Regions from separate parts of the Homo sapiens genome. Here regions 1 and 2 are each linked to region 3. Evidence: fine-mapped expression QTL. A gene starts in region 3. Each other region holds a variant in brackets. All regions are shown on one strand. Distances are between the middles of the regions.

What was found.
Region 1: its variant is fine-mapped to the expression of PIRAT1 in whole blood (INTERVAL, PIP above 0.99).
Region 2: its variant is fine-mapped to the expression of PIRAT1 in whole blood (INTERVAL, PIP above 0.99).

The regions. Positions count from the first base shown.
Region 1 is chr2:37,813,167-37,817,407 of GRCh38, reverse strand. It overlaps the pseudogene LOC344382. Among named protein-coding and RNA genes, the nearest start is that of PIRAT1, 61 kb to the left of the region's middle. The variant G/AG (reference allele first, on the strand shown) is at 2,007.
Region 2 is chr2:37,826,652-37,830,892 of GRCh38, reverse strand. PIRAT1 (PU.1 (SPI1) induced regulator of S100A8 and S100A9 alarmin transcription 1) reads left to right here. Exons shown (of 4, transcript NR_110012.1): 3 at 1,855-1,960; 4 at 3,015-4,241. Among named protein-coding and RNA genes, the nearest start is that of PIRAT1, 47 kb to the left of the region's middle. The variant T/C (reference allele first, on the strand shown) is at 1,633.
Region 3 is chr2:37,873,867-37,878,107 of GRCh38, reverse strand. It overlaps PIRAT1 (PU.1 (SPI1) induced regulator of S100A8 and S100A9 alarmin transcription 1), which reads left to right and starts at 2,245. Exons shown (of 4, transcript NR_110012.1): 1 at 2,245-2,365.

The DNA.
Region 1 (4,241 bases), 61 kb after region 3:
CAGTTTTGTCATCAGCAGAAAGAATCTGTTTATCCTCACTGCACCATAGGAGCCTTTTTTTTATACCAGAAGTGTGACCACTAATTTCCTTAGGTCTTGCTTTGGGTTTGTTCAAGTCATACATGCGTAACAGTTTATCCTGTCCCTTGGTTAACAAATAATTACTATCCTGCATGAAATACACAGTCTTGACAATGTATTTATGAGCCAAGGTCATCAATTCATCTCCTAAGACAGCATCCCACACTTTGGCTGTGAAATCTGCAGCTGCTGTTGCTGCTTTGGTGGCATTCAGTGTTGCACCCCAAACAGCACCTTTATGACCCCAAAATGTTCCAATCCAGTCTCCTGTATCTCCCTGGCGTAGCATAGGTTTACCATCTTTGTAAGCGCTGGTTAAGAAATACCCATAAGTCGTGATGCCACTGAAGGCCAAATCAACCATGGGCCACGTGTGGCCAAAGTAGGTGAGCAGCGTCTGTCTCATTGCCATGGTGGCAGTGAACCCAGCGACCAGACTGGCGAGCTGAGTGTTGTCGTTCTCTTTTCTCTCTTCTGCTGCAGCACCTTGGGCTCCTCCAGGCCCCCGCCCTGACACTAGGGCTGGGCTGCAAAACAGGAAAAGGAGGACAATCTGGTGGCACTGAGGTTAGGAAGGGGTGACGGAGGGGTCAGGGAGTCTGACATGGGCAAGTAACAGTCGACCAGGGAGGGAAAGGGAGAAACTGAATATTTTAAAGTACTGCGGGAACAGGGATGCCAGAGAAAAAAGGATTTGGGAGAAACAGGACGCTATCCGTAAAGAACAAAAATGCGCTCAGAAGTCTGATCACAGGGAGAAGGGGGGCCCTCATGGCAGGGAGACCCATTGCTTAGAGTCTGATATTTGAATTAAGTCTCTATCTCCCACTGAACAGTAAGTTCTTGTTTCCTGTTTGCCAATATTTTCCCACAGATTATTATAGCGCTTGGTGTACAATAGTTGCTCAATGAATGTTTGTAGAATAAAAGCTGCATTTTGCTGGCTTCACCCTTTTGCCCAGGGTCAGCCATCAATCACCTGACTAACGCAGGCTTCGGGGCCACTTCTCCTGTATACACTCCCTTCCCTGACCTCTGGCTTCCTGAATCACCAGAAGCCGCGGACAGAGGTGTATGTGGTATGGCCCCTCCTGGAGACAGGTCAATCCCTCATCCTCATCTAAGACTTCCTGGAGTCTGAATAGGCACTGATTCCAAGTGTGACATGCAGTTGTAGGTGAAGTTCCTGAGTCAGGCGCCTGGCCTAGAAGAAAAAGCAACATTGCCATCAGAGGCCGAGAAGCCAGCGGACTCCCATCTCTCTGGCCTGACGCCATGAACCCAGGCATAGGACTCCTCACTGTTTCAGGTTTCAGTTTTTATAACTACACCTTCTCTGATCAGTTTTATGATACTTCTGTATGAAACTACATTAAATACTACAGCTCTTGTGTGATTAGAGGGCAGATAGATAGAGGCTCAGAAAAGTAACAAAACAACAAAAAACCAAACCAACCAACCAAACATAGTTTGTCCAGTAACCAAGAGACTGAAGTCAGGGGCCAAGAAAATCAGAAAGTGTCAAATTATTGAAGTCTCAAATTGGCTTTCACCTAATTAAAATAGCAGCTGAAATTTCCCTTTTTATACAGGGCTTTGACAACAGATTTTTCTTAAGAGTGTTGGGCCGGGCGCGGTGGCCCACGCCTGTAATCCCAGCACTTTGGAAGGCCGAGGCGGGCGGATCACGAGGTCAGGAGATTGAGACCATCCTGGCTAACATGGTGAAACCCCATTTCCACTAAAAATACAAAAAATTAGCCGGGCATAGTGGCGGGCGCCTGTAGTCCCAGCTACTCGGGAGGCTGAGGCAGGAGAATGGCGTGAACCTGGGAGGCGGAGCTTGCAGTGAGCCGAGATTGCGCCACTGCACTCCAGCCTGGGCGAAAGAGCCAGACTCCGTCTCAAAAAAAAAAAAAAAAAAA[G/AG]AGTGTTGGGTGCCTGATCCTCAGAGCATGCTGAAACACCCTCTCTGGGTTTTGCTGACACAAATGCAAAGGCTACCAATGCTAGGCCTTTGAAAGGGAGTGGAAGGCACTGGCCCCCAAATGGTAAAGTTGGTGAGACTTATCTTTCAGAAAAATTCCCCCTTGTTGATGTTTTATCCTTTGATCCAACATTATTATTCTTCCTTTTTTCCTCTCTAGAAATAAACTATTTACTCACTATTTACCTCCTTTACCTAAGGCATGCTTGTGTTTTTTTAAGTTAATATTTAATTGGAAAAGGAATCACTTGGGGTGCAGTGGGAATTTTGTCATATCAAGGTGGTCTTCCTGGACTCTCTCAAACCCTCCAAAGAAGCAATCACCTAATTCACATATGAGCAATGACAGGATGGCCAGGGGAGATTATGAAATTTTCAACATTTATGAAGGAGAGTGGATATTCCTTGAAATGAATGTTTGTTGAACACAGCAGAGATGAACTAAGACTGTGGGGGAAGCTTGATCGCAGTACCCAACCAAACCTAGAGCCCAGGGTTGCAGAAATCCACGAGGAAGAGTCCTCATGCCATGGGGTGAGCTGTCTATACCTGGGCAATGGCATTTTAGAATCAAGGGGCTGATTGATACTAAACTGAAACAATTCTTCAGTCTGGACAAGGTGAGAAAGCAGGCCAAAATGTGCTTTCAGAATTACAGGCATTATCGGAAATATATTTCAAGAAGGTTTTTCTCCTATAACACTGATATTATAACATGTTTTTTTGGGAAGTGTCACTTTGGTTGGAAGGGGTTCCTAAACCAATTTCTGAATCTCTTTCCGTACTGGCTCTAGTTCTGATGCACACAGAGCCTCCCTCAGCTTTTGGGCAGAGTCCATTTGAGACACATCATAGGATCGGGGTCTCCATGTCTTTAGCTCCTGTTCTCACTAAAGTAGGTGACAGTGAAGCCGAGTGTGAAAACAGCAACATAACTCCTATTTATCAAGCACAGACTGCATGCCAGGCACACTGCTAAGTATCTTGTATATATTATCTTTTTTGCAGGTTTATTGACATGTTATTGATGTACAATAGATTACATATGTTCAACACGTACAATTTGATGATTTTACATATGTACATACCAATGAAACCATCACCACAATCAAAAATGCACATATCAGTCACCCCAAAGGTTTTCTGACGACCCTTTTTGATCCTTCCCTTTCACCTCTCCCTGACCCATACCCTCAACCTCAGACAACCACTCACATGCTTTCTGTCACTATGGGCTGTATTTTCTAAATTTTTATATGATTGGAATCATGCAGTATGGCCCCTTTTTCATCTGACTTCTTCACTCAGCATTATTTTGAGATTTATTCATGCTATTACATATAATAAAAATAGTTCATTCCTTTATATTGGTAAGTATTTCATTGTATGGTTTTCCCACGGTTTGTTTTTCCAATCACCAACTGACAAACATTTGAATCATTTCCAGATTTAGAGCACATTAATTAAGCAGGTTTTAAAACTGAGGTAATTTGTCTCCTTTAATCCCTAGAATGAAGTTCCAGAAAACACACTTTCTGAAAATAGCCATGAGTCCAGAAGTCAAATTGAACCTTCTTCAAAAGACCAACCTCTTTCTATTAGCAGTCCAGGGATCCAGATGCTTGCAAATGTCCAGTGCAGGCCGATCTCAGACACTCCTCACAACAGAGGGGTACTGATGGCTGAGTAGACGGTGCCTGGGGAAGGCTGAGCCCAAGGCACAGAAGCAGGCAGAGTCCAGTTCCCTGTTTCTCCAGCATCCTTAGGTACAAGCGCACCATCTTGCCCCAGTGCTGGAATTCTTCAGAACCAGAGTTGCATCCAGGTCTCTTCTCATTAAAGCACTTCTAATTCCATCACTCAGCCCCAGCACAGGATGGCGGGACTAGAGGAGGTTCCGAAGTAAGTCATCTAGTAGGCATGGGCAATAGAGGGATGATGCCAGTGGGAGGTAGGGGGAATGGGAGGCAAAGCTCCACACTGGAACTGCTGCCAAAGAGCATGGCGGCAGAGGCCTCTTCTCTGGCAGTGATCCCAGGTGCTGGTGGCGCAGGATGCTTTCACAGCAGTATTCAGGGCACCATGACGCTCCATAGGTTCAGCTTAGTGGACATAACACCCTCCATGGCCTGACCTACAATGATTGGCTCATGGCTTTTAGTTTTCACACAGTCAC
Region 2 (4,241 bases), 47 kb after region 3:
GGAAGAAAAATGGACTTGGAGAGAGAACAGTCAAATCTGGGCCTGCCTCTGAGTGCCTGTGTGGCCCTCGGCAAGTTTCCCTTCAACTTGAAGACCTGGGTCTCTATGATCCCTTTCAGTTGCAAGATTAAGACCTAAGAGTTCTTGCTTATATAAACAGAATTCTTCCAAGGCCATAATTATTTCCATAATCAAGAACTATTTATTAACTAAGCACCAGTGTGTGATTTTCTCAAGATAAGAGCAAGAAGAAATGGTCCTTACAGGCTAGATAGCTGTGACATGGACCAACAACTAAGCATATCTAAAAATTCGACTAATTCATAATATGAATTCAAAATATGAATTGAATAAGCAAAAATATATATACCATGGGAGTTGAATGTTTTGACGGGGAAAATCCAGACGCTGACTTTAGGATGGTACTTTCTGTTTTGATTGATCCTGAGCCACACTGGACTCTCTGGCATGGGCATAACCCGAGCATCTGCATGGCAGAGTTCTGGCTCATTGCCATTTGCAACAGACACGAAGGGTGGCATCAAACAAAAGGAAACTTCTCCGTTGACCATCATAAATGATGAAGACCAAGGCTTCAACTCACTTACTGGAGTGGATTTCCTTTTACGGATGGCCTTGGTCACCCTGGGGAGACTAAGAATGTTTAAGTAACTTAACAAACACTCAGTAAGGAATGGGATCAGGATTCTTCTCCAGGGCTAACAGTTTTAACTGCCATTCTACATTTCCTGCCTGAGACAGCTGCCAACCTGGGCTTCTGTGACTGCCACTCCATGCTTCTCAAGCCAGGGTGCACGTTAGACTCATCTGGAGAGCTTGGTAAAGCCATCCATGTCCAGGCTCACCCACAGAGTCCTCAGTTTTCTCAGTTTGAGGAGGGGCCTGGGTACCAATACTTTTTAAAAGCTCCCTCTGGGTGATTCTAAGTACAATCAGGGTGTCAATCACTGATGTCCATAATGAAAAGTGTCAGACTCCAAAGCAAACTCAGGAGGACTGCCTTCATGGTATGGATCCCTGGCAGATTTGAACCTTAGAGGATTAGGCTAGCAGCTTGTGGAAGCGGATGCAAATCTTCCAATCCTCTAAGGGCAGATGAGCCTCTGGACTCATGAGAACGCTGGTCTTGGTAAAAATCCCCTGCATACCACAGGCCTCCCTTGGAGAAATCACCTAAAGAAACACCAGGAAGAATTCATTCTGGCCTCAAATAGTTACATGGATGTTTGTTACAAGAAGACACATTTAACCATTGAAGTTCCTACTCATTGAGTGAACCGTGTCTCCCTCCTCTCTGGTTTCCAGAAACAAGGATTTTTTTCTAAACTCCTCTTACTTCTTGCCTCATGGCTAATGCCCACGGAGGTGGGGTGAGTGACCTGCTGGTAACCAAGGGAAATGAATCTGCACAGGAAGCCCAGGCCCTCCCTCCCTCCCTTCTCATTAGAAGCCAGCTTCCCCTGGAAAACAACCACATTCTGCTCTACTTTCTCATGTCTATGTGGCCCTCCCTGAGTGGGAAGGCTTAAGTTTTGTAAGATTCATCATAAGTGTGGTGATATTTCCTAATTCCAGGGAATGGAGCTAGTCATGCCACACATCTTTGCTGTT[T/C]TCACGAACTGAGGTAATTTTTATTTTTATTTTTATTTTTTTGAGGAACAGTCTTACTCTGTCACCCAGGCTGCAGTGTAGTGGTGTGATCACAGCTCACTGCAGCCTTGACCTCCTGGGCTTAGGTGATCCTCCCACCCTAGCCTCCCATGTAGCTGGGACTAGAGGTATGTGCCACCTCACCTCCTTTTTTTCTTTTCTTTTTCTTTTTTGGAGAGACAGATTCTTCTTATGTTGCTATTTTAAACTCCTGAACTCAAGTGATCCTCCTGCCTTGGCCTCCCAAAGTGCTGGGATTACAGGTGTGAGACACTGCACCCTGCCCAAGGTAATATTTTGACCTTCCTTTACCTTATTCTTTGTCCATCTCTTAATTAGTTTATAACTTAGACGGGAAAAAAGAGGTGTCTAAATAAATAAATAAATAAATTTATTTAAATAAATATTAAATAAATCCCATCAGTTCCCCATAGAATGCCATTTTCCCCTAGCTGTCTATTCATGTAACAAAACGAACAAGAAAACACTACAAATTCTCTCCCTATTTATACTGTCCCACCATTATGTTATAACTCTCATTATAATGTTTTAGTTTTTCCTTGAAATAATAATCATCAACCCATTTGTAAACCATATGTTTCTACCCACAAGTGACAACCAGAATTTCAGGATTAATTGCAAGAGCCATAAAGAGCTTTTTGGTCATTTCCCTAAGAGCCTCCATGAATAGTAACAAGGGCGAATAGTAACCCCCGGCTTCAGCTGTCCCCACTGCTGTGGCAGGTTATGATACTTTCTTTCCTAAAGTAAAGGCCAAGACAGATGGCTTTTCAGGACTTCCAGAGTCTGTATGACATAAGAAGCTTATTCCAGTAAAGGGAACAAGACCCTTGTCATCTGACACCAATGAGATGCTCTTCCCTTGGCTGGCAGGGATCTGGAGGAGGAGGAGCAGATAACCTTCAGCCTAAATAAGCAATACCATCATTATTCTGGAATCTCTCTGAAGTATGGTTGGTTACAGTGTGGAATTCCACAGGGCACGTGCCTGTCTTGGACTCTATCCAAGGGAGTAAGTTATCACAAGGACCTCATTATAACAGGGGCTCCAGGGACAGTGTCAGTCAGCAGGCTTCAAGGTAGCTGCTAAAATTCTGGTGCTGGTCTGTTTAATCACTGCATGCTTGTTAATACAGTCAAGCCTCAGTTACAACAGAATCAACAGCCCAGTTTGTCACTCATCCATTCCTTGTTCCGTCACCGCCTGGTTGAGTTTCTGGCTTGTTTATGGGGCAACTCTGGGTGTCGGGCAAAATGAATGCCTCTTGTTTGAAATGCCTAATCCCGAGGTTTTTCACCTATGTGTTGTTTTCTCCCACCAGCACCTCTGCTCCGTGCCATGCTCTTGGCTAATTGGAGTTGTGAAAGGCATGAGGATTCTGGTCATGGACTCAGCTCTCCCATAGGGTTCTGACACCAAAGCAATGGTCACAACAGTGAAAGGAAGAATCCATCTGGCCAGGCTCAGGTGGTTCAAGGCCTTCAGAATCTGCCTTGAGACTCTCACTGGCTTTAGACTGAAAACCATCTTGGCCCCGTCCATCCGTGTAAGCAATTTAACGACAGCTTGCAAAGCACCGAGCTTTAACAGAAAGAAGAGATGAGCACAGCGCAAGAACTTGGACTCCAGAAGAGCTGCCTAACAGATTATTTTTCTGTGGCATTTCATGAGAACAAACGAAGTAGGAATTTTCCTTTTGTTTGTCTGGCCTTTGGCATCGTTTACTTTCTTTTTATTCTTCTGAAATGTACTTCGAGCCCTGGCAGCATTTCTGTCCTAAAATCTTATTGTCAGAGGTTTATTTTTCAGCTTTTCAAATCATATCTGATAGAGTGAGTGTACTGCCTGGACTCATCACTTTACTTCAGAAGAAATACAGCTCACCCTTTAAATGACAATGGTGACTGTCCACATCTTTATGTTTTCTACACTGAAGTGGCAGGCTTCATTTAAAAATAATGTTTTCCCTCATCAAAAGAGAGCTAGGGTAGAACCGTCAACTCTGCTGTTGTCTGGGTAGTGACCTAACACCCACGTTTTGGACAATCACTCACTGTCTTATATTGGGTTTTCATTGCATGTAGGATAATTCTTTGTCAATGGTAGTTTTGTCAACCGTGATCTGAGGTAATGAGGTTTTCTACTTTTGCTTGAAATTTTGAAAATATGCAAGCTTTAAACATTTGCAAAGTTGGATTCTGTTTTCTTTAGAAAGCAATCTGATTTGCTGATATTCTCTCCATCTGTCAGGGGATGCGTGATGTGGTGTAGACTTAATGTGCTGCCTTTCTGGAACATGGACAGAGTAGCAGCACAGAAAAATGAGCATTTCAGCTCTGTGATGATTTGTGAAAAAAAATCTCAGATCATTGAGCAGGCATTTTGCTGACACCTGTGAAAAGTAACCACATGAGAGAGCATGGCGTGATGGTCGGAGGCCACGTGCTGGAGCTGGACTGCTTGAGTCAAATCCCAGCTGCTCAGCTGTAGTGAACTGAATGGTGGTCCCCAAAAGATACATGTATCTCCTAATCCCTGGAACCTGTGA
Region 3 (4,241 bases):
ATATCCAGCGTGTGCTCCATAAATGTCGTATAACAATAGCTGCCTTGATCTGCTAGCTTTGGGGTAAATTTTACATATGTCATTTAATCAAGAAAACAACCTTCTAAGTATAATTGTTCATATTTTGCAGATGAAAAGACTGAGGGTAAGAGAAATCACGTAGCTATTAAGTGGTTTAGCTGAAATTCACCCCATTTTTATCCTCTTCCAAAGTTAGTGCTCTTAAGAATTACATAAATAATTATATATTAAGTTCATTGTATTCTCCCTATAGGCTGCTTAAGAATACAATAATATAAGATAAAAATATGTGTACATGAACTTATATTTATCAGTAAGTACTGGGGTATAAAATTGTCTTTCCCTCTTTAAGCCCTAATGTTCATTGACGCGTTAACAATGAGTCACGATTTTATTTCTTGACAGTAGATGGCGCTGGTGATTGTCAAAAGAGACAGAGTCTCCCACACCCCTCTCCTTTCCTGAGCCATTGAAAAACAAAACAAAGAGCTGGTGGAAAAAAAACGCAAAAATTTTCATCGTAATGAAGGATTGAAATTAAAAATTTGGAACCGTCATGTGATTAAGCAGAACGTGTATATGATCCACACACTTTTATTTGGAACTCTAGGGAAAACCTCCTGAGCTATTTGTAAAATTTCATTCTCAGGATTAAAACAAAATATAGTAAAATTTGATTATCCAGACAAAAGATGGATTTATATTTCTCTATTAGACAGATTTTATTTCTGCACCTTAATTTTAGCAAGGGATGAATATTAAGACAACTATGAATTTAGTTGACAAAAAACTCACATATATCTGACTTCCAGAGTCCTGAAGGTGGTATAGAGGAGTATGGTAGTCAAGATAAAAACAAAACAAATTATTATATGACCTTTGAGTATATCACTTAATGTCTCAGGACAGAAGTTTTCTCATTTGTAAAACTGAAATATTTCTTGCCTAATTCACATGGCAGTTGCAAGGATCAAATACAGTAAAGTAGTATAAACACCTTGAGAATTGTCATGTTCTTTCCAAATATGCTTTTTTTCATCTTTACCATACAATCAACCCAACCACCTATAGGTAAAATCATAACACAAGGAAAATTGGAATTCAGAATAAAATACTTGAGCATTAAATTTCCTCATTGGTCCAAAAGCACTTTAATAGGCTTTGGTGAATTAGATTCGTGCAAGAAAAGGGACTAATGTATTTTCAACCATCAAAGGAGTGTTTAGCTTAATAATCAGCTACCCAGAAAATGAAACAGAAAAACACTTGAATCCAAAGCACCGAAGTGAACTGAAGCGGCCTCCACTGTCCTCCCCTAACTGTCCGCACGGCCTGTCCTCTGTAGGAGTGTCCTTGTGTACGTGTGGAGGTTGTGGACACACATGCCTAGGGTTACAGATGCTCTACAGACTTAACTCAGTATAGTGAAGCTGCAGAGATAGTCATAGCCCTAAAGAAGCCTATCTGAGAGCTTTCCTTTGGGTTTTACAAGAGGCATAGATATTTATTCTGCTCTTCTTTTAACAAAAGACTCCCAAATATTTGCTGAAGATGTAGAGTATTGCCATTTCTGCTTCAAAAGCTCTGAGCCTCTCACGGCACCTGTTGCTGCTGCCCCAAGAGCGGAACACACCCTCCACACCAGCAGCCCCAGGACTAGATTCAGCTTCTCAGTGAACCACTTCCATGCTCCACGATGTGCTCTGGGCTTTGGGGACTTAAAACATCGCAGCCGCGGCATAACAGAGATGCGTCAGCTTCTAAAGTCGTAGTGGGCAGTTCTAGAAACCTGACCCTTTCTTCTGCTGCTACAGATTCTATTGGCTTCTGGAGATTCAGAGACGTCCTTCCTCAAGAAGGAACCTCTGCCTGGCCTTCAGCAGGGCCACTGTCATGTGCGATATTCACTTAGAGCCTTATCACATTTGTGGCTGTAGAGGTGTTTGCGTGCCTTGTTTAATTTATCCCACTAGACTGTAAGTTCAGGGCAGATGGGGGATGTCTGGTTTTTGTTTTTTTTTTTTTTGCCTAATACTGTGTCCCCATGCTGGGCACAGACCTAGCACAGAGTAGGTGCTTGGCAAAGAGCTTTTGAATGAATGAATGATTGGCTGTAGTCTTCCTGGGAAAGGGCTGGCAGGCAAGGAAGTGTTAAACCAGCCACTAACCGCCCAGGCTGACCAGCCTTCTCCCTATCTCCCAGGCCTTTCGAACGGAGCCCGGGGAGGACAGGCTGGCAGAGGAGGGAGGAGGGTTTCTAGCTGAGAGAGACTGCGGCTGTGGGCCTGCAGCCTACCCCTCTTCAAGCTCTCCGGAGCCGTTCCTGCGAAACCAGCCCCCACAAGTGAGTGTCTGCGGCCCCCTCCCTCCTCTTTCCCTTATTGCTCCCTGTGGGGATGGGGCTGACACCGAGCTTGATCCTAAGTAAAAGTCTGTTCTAACAGGAAGCAAATAATGTTCCTCCCCTGACGGAGGTGTTTCCTTCTCAAAGAAGTTACAAAGGGCTCTTTTCAGAGAGAAAGGGGCTGGGAATAGTGTGTGGCCTCACTGCCGTCTGCCTTGGGTGGAGCCAGCACGTTCTGGAATCCAGGGGCTTCCTCTTCTAAAGAGGCGCCGGGCCATGCACTGAAACGGGGTGGCCCATCCTCTGGGAGCCCCAGTCCCCTTACCTGCTTGATACAAGCATCCTCTGGAAGTGCCTAGGGTCATTGCCAAGGCCCCTGTTTTCTTTTCTTGGCTTCCAGGACGCCGTAGTCTGTGTTCTTCCTCCCGCCCTGCAGTTCCCTAGCTGGATTCTCTTCCTCGCTGTGATCTCTTCATCCCTGGTTCCCCAGCGCTCTGTCCTGAGCCCCCTTCTCGAACCACACTCTCGTCTGAGTGAGCATATTGAGCTTCATGGCTGTACATTTCCTCCCCGTGCCGAGGAATCCCACACACTTAGTTCCAGCGCCCAGCTCGCCCCCACCTCATCCAGGTCCTTACATCCCCCTGCAGACTCTGTCTCCACTCCACCTCATTGGTGTTTCCCACTCACTAGATCTAAAGCCAAACTCTTGATCCTGACTTCTCCACCCACCAGCTTGCCTTTCTCTTCATCTTCCCCATCTCAGAGAGCGGCTCGGTCCCGAACTGTCTCTTTCCTTCACACCCTTCATCTAACACACAGCAAGGCTTCTCAGCTCTACCTTCAAAATCTACTCCTCATCTTTCTTCTTCCCACCACCGCCACTCAAACGCCCTCGGCCTAGAGGGATCAGACCCATACTACCTGGCTCCTGAACCTCTGCAAGAGTCTCTGATCTTTCTGCTTCCACTCCTGTCTTGCTACAGACTATTCTTCTGACAGCAGCCGGGGTGATCTTTTCAACTACCAGACCGTGTCACCTTGCTTAAAACCAGCTGGGGCTTCCCTCACACGCAGCATGACACTCAAACTCCACACGACAATCTAACCAGCCTCACCAACTGTGGCCCTGGCTTGTCCTTCTGACTTAGCTTCTGTCTCAGCTCAGGCTACACTGGCCTTCTTGGTATTCCTCAGCCCCCCAGCTTGTCACTGCCCAGCCTTTGCACTGTGTCCTCTCTCTGGAGTTCTTTCCCTCAGGTCTTCAGGTGGCCTTGCTCTCGGGCTTTCTGGAGAGACTTAAAAGCCATATCCATGGAGAGGCTGAGTTTGGCCACCTACCTAAGGTAGCCTCTCATCACTCTCCATGCCTTCGTCTGGCTTTCCTTTTGATTGAGCACTTGTTACTACTTGTGTTCAGCTCTTAGATGAGGGCACAAGGAACTCTGGCGGGTTTAAGTAGAAGAAGGATTTATGTGTAGACTTTGACAGCTCCAGGAATGTTTGGGAAGGCTTAGTGGTTTATAGCCAAGAAGAGTGCACGCATTGCACGAATTGGTGGGATCTCTGCTGCCCCAGCTGCCACTGGTTATGTCACCAATGCTACCGTCCCAGATACTAACACTGCTGGAACCCGCTGTCACCAGCACCCTTGGAATCCCCATCTTTCTGCAGCTGCTGCCATCTCCTATGAGGGCTTTCTCAGTCTCTTTGTCCTTGAGTCATTGGTTCCTAACTCAAATTGTGGGCCAGTGTGTCTGGCTGGTGGAGCCTTGGCCACAGGCCTTGGCTCCTTCTACAAGAGAGGCTGATAAAACCACTATCAGGCATTTTCAAATTCTATGTAATGGACCATGGGCTCTGCTTATCCACCAGA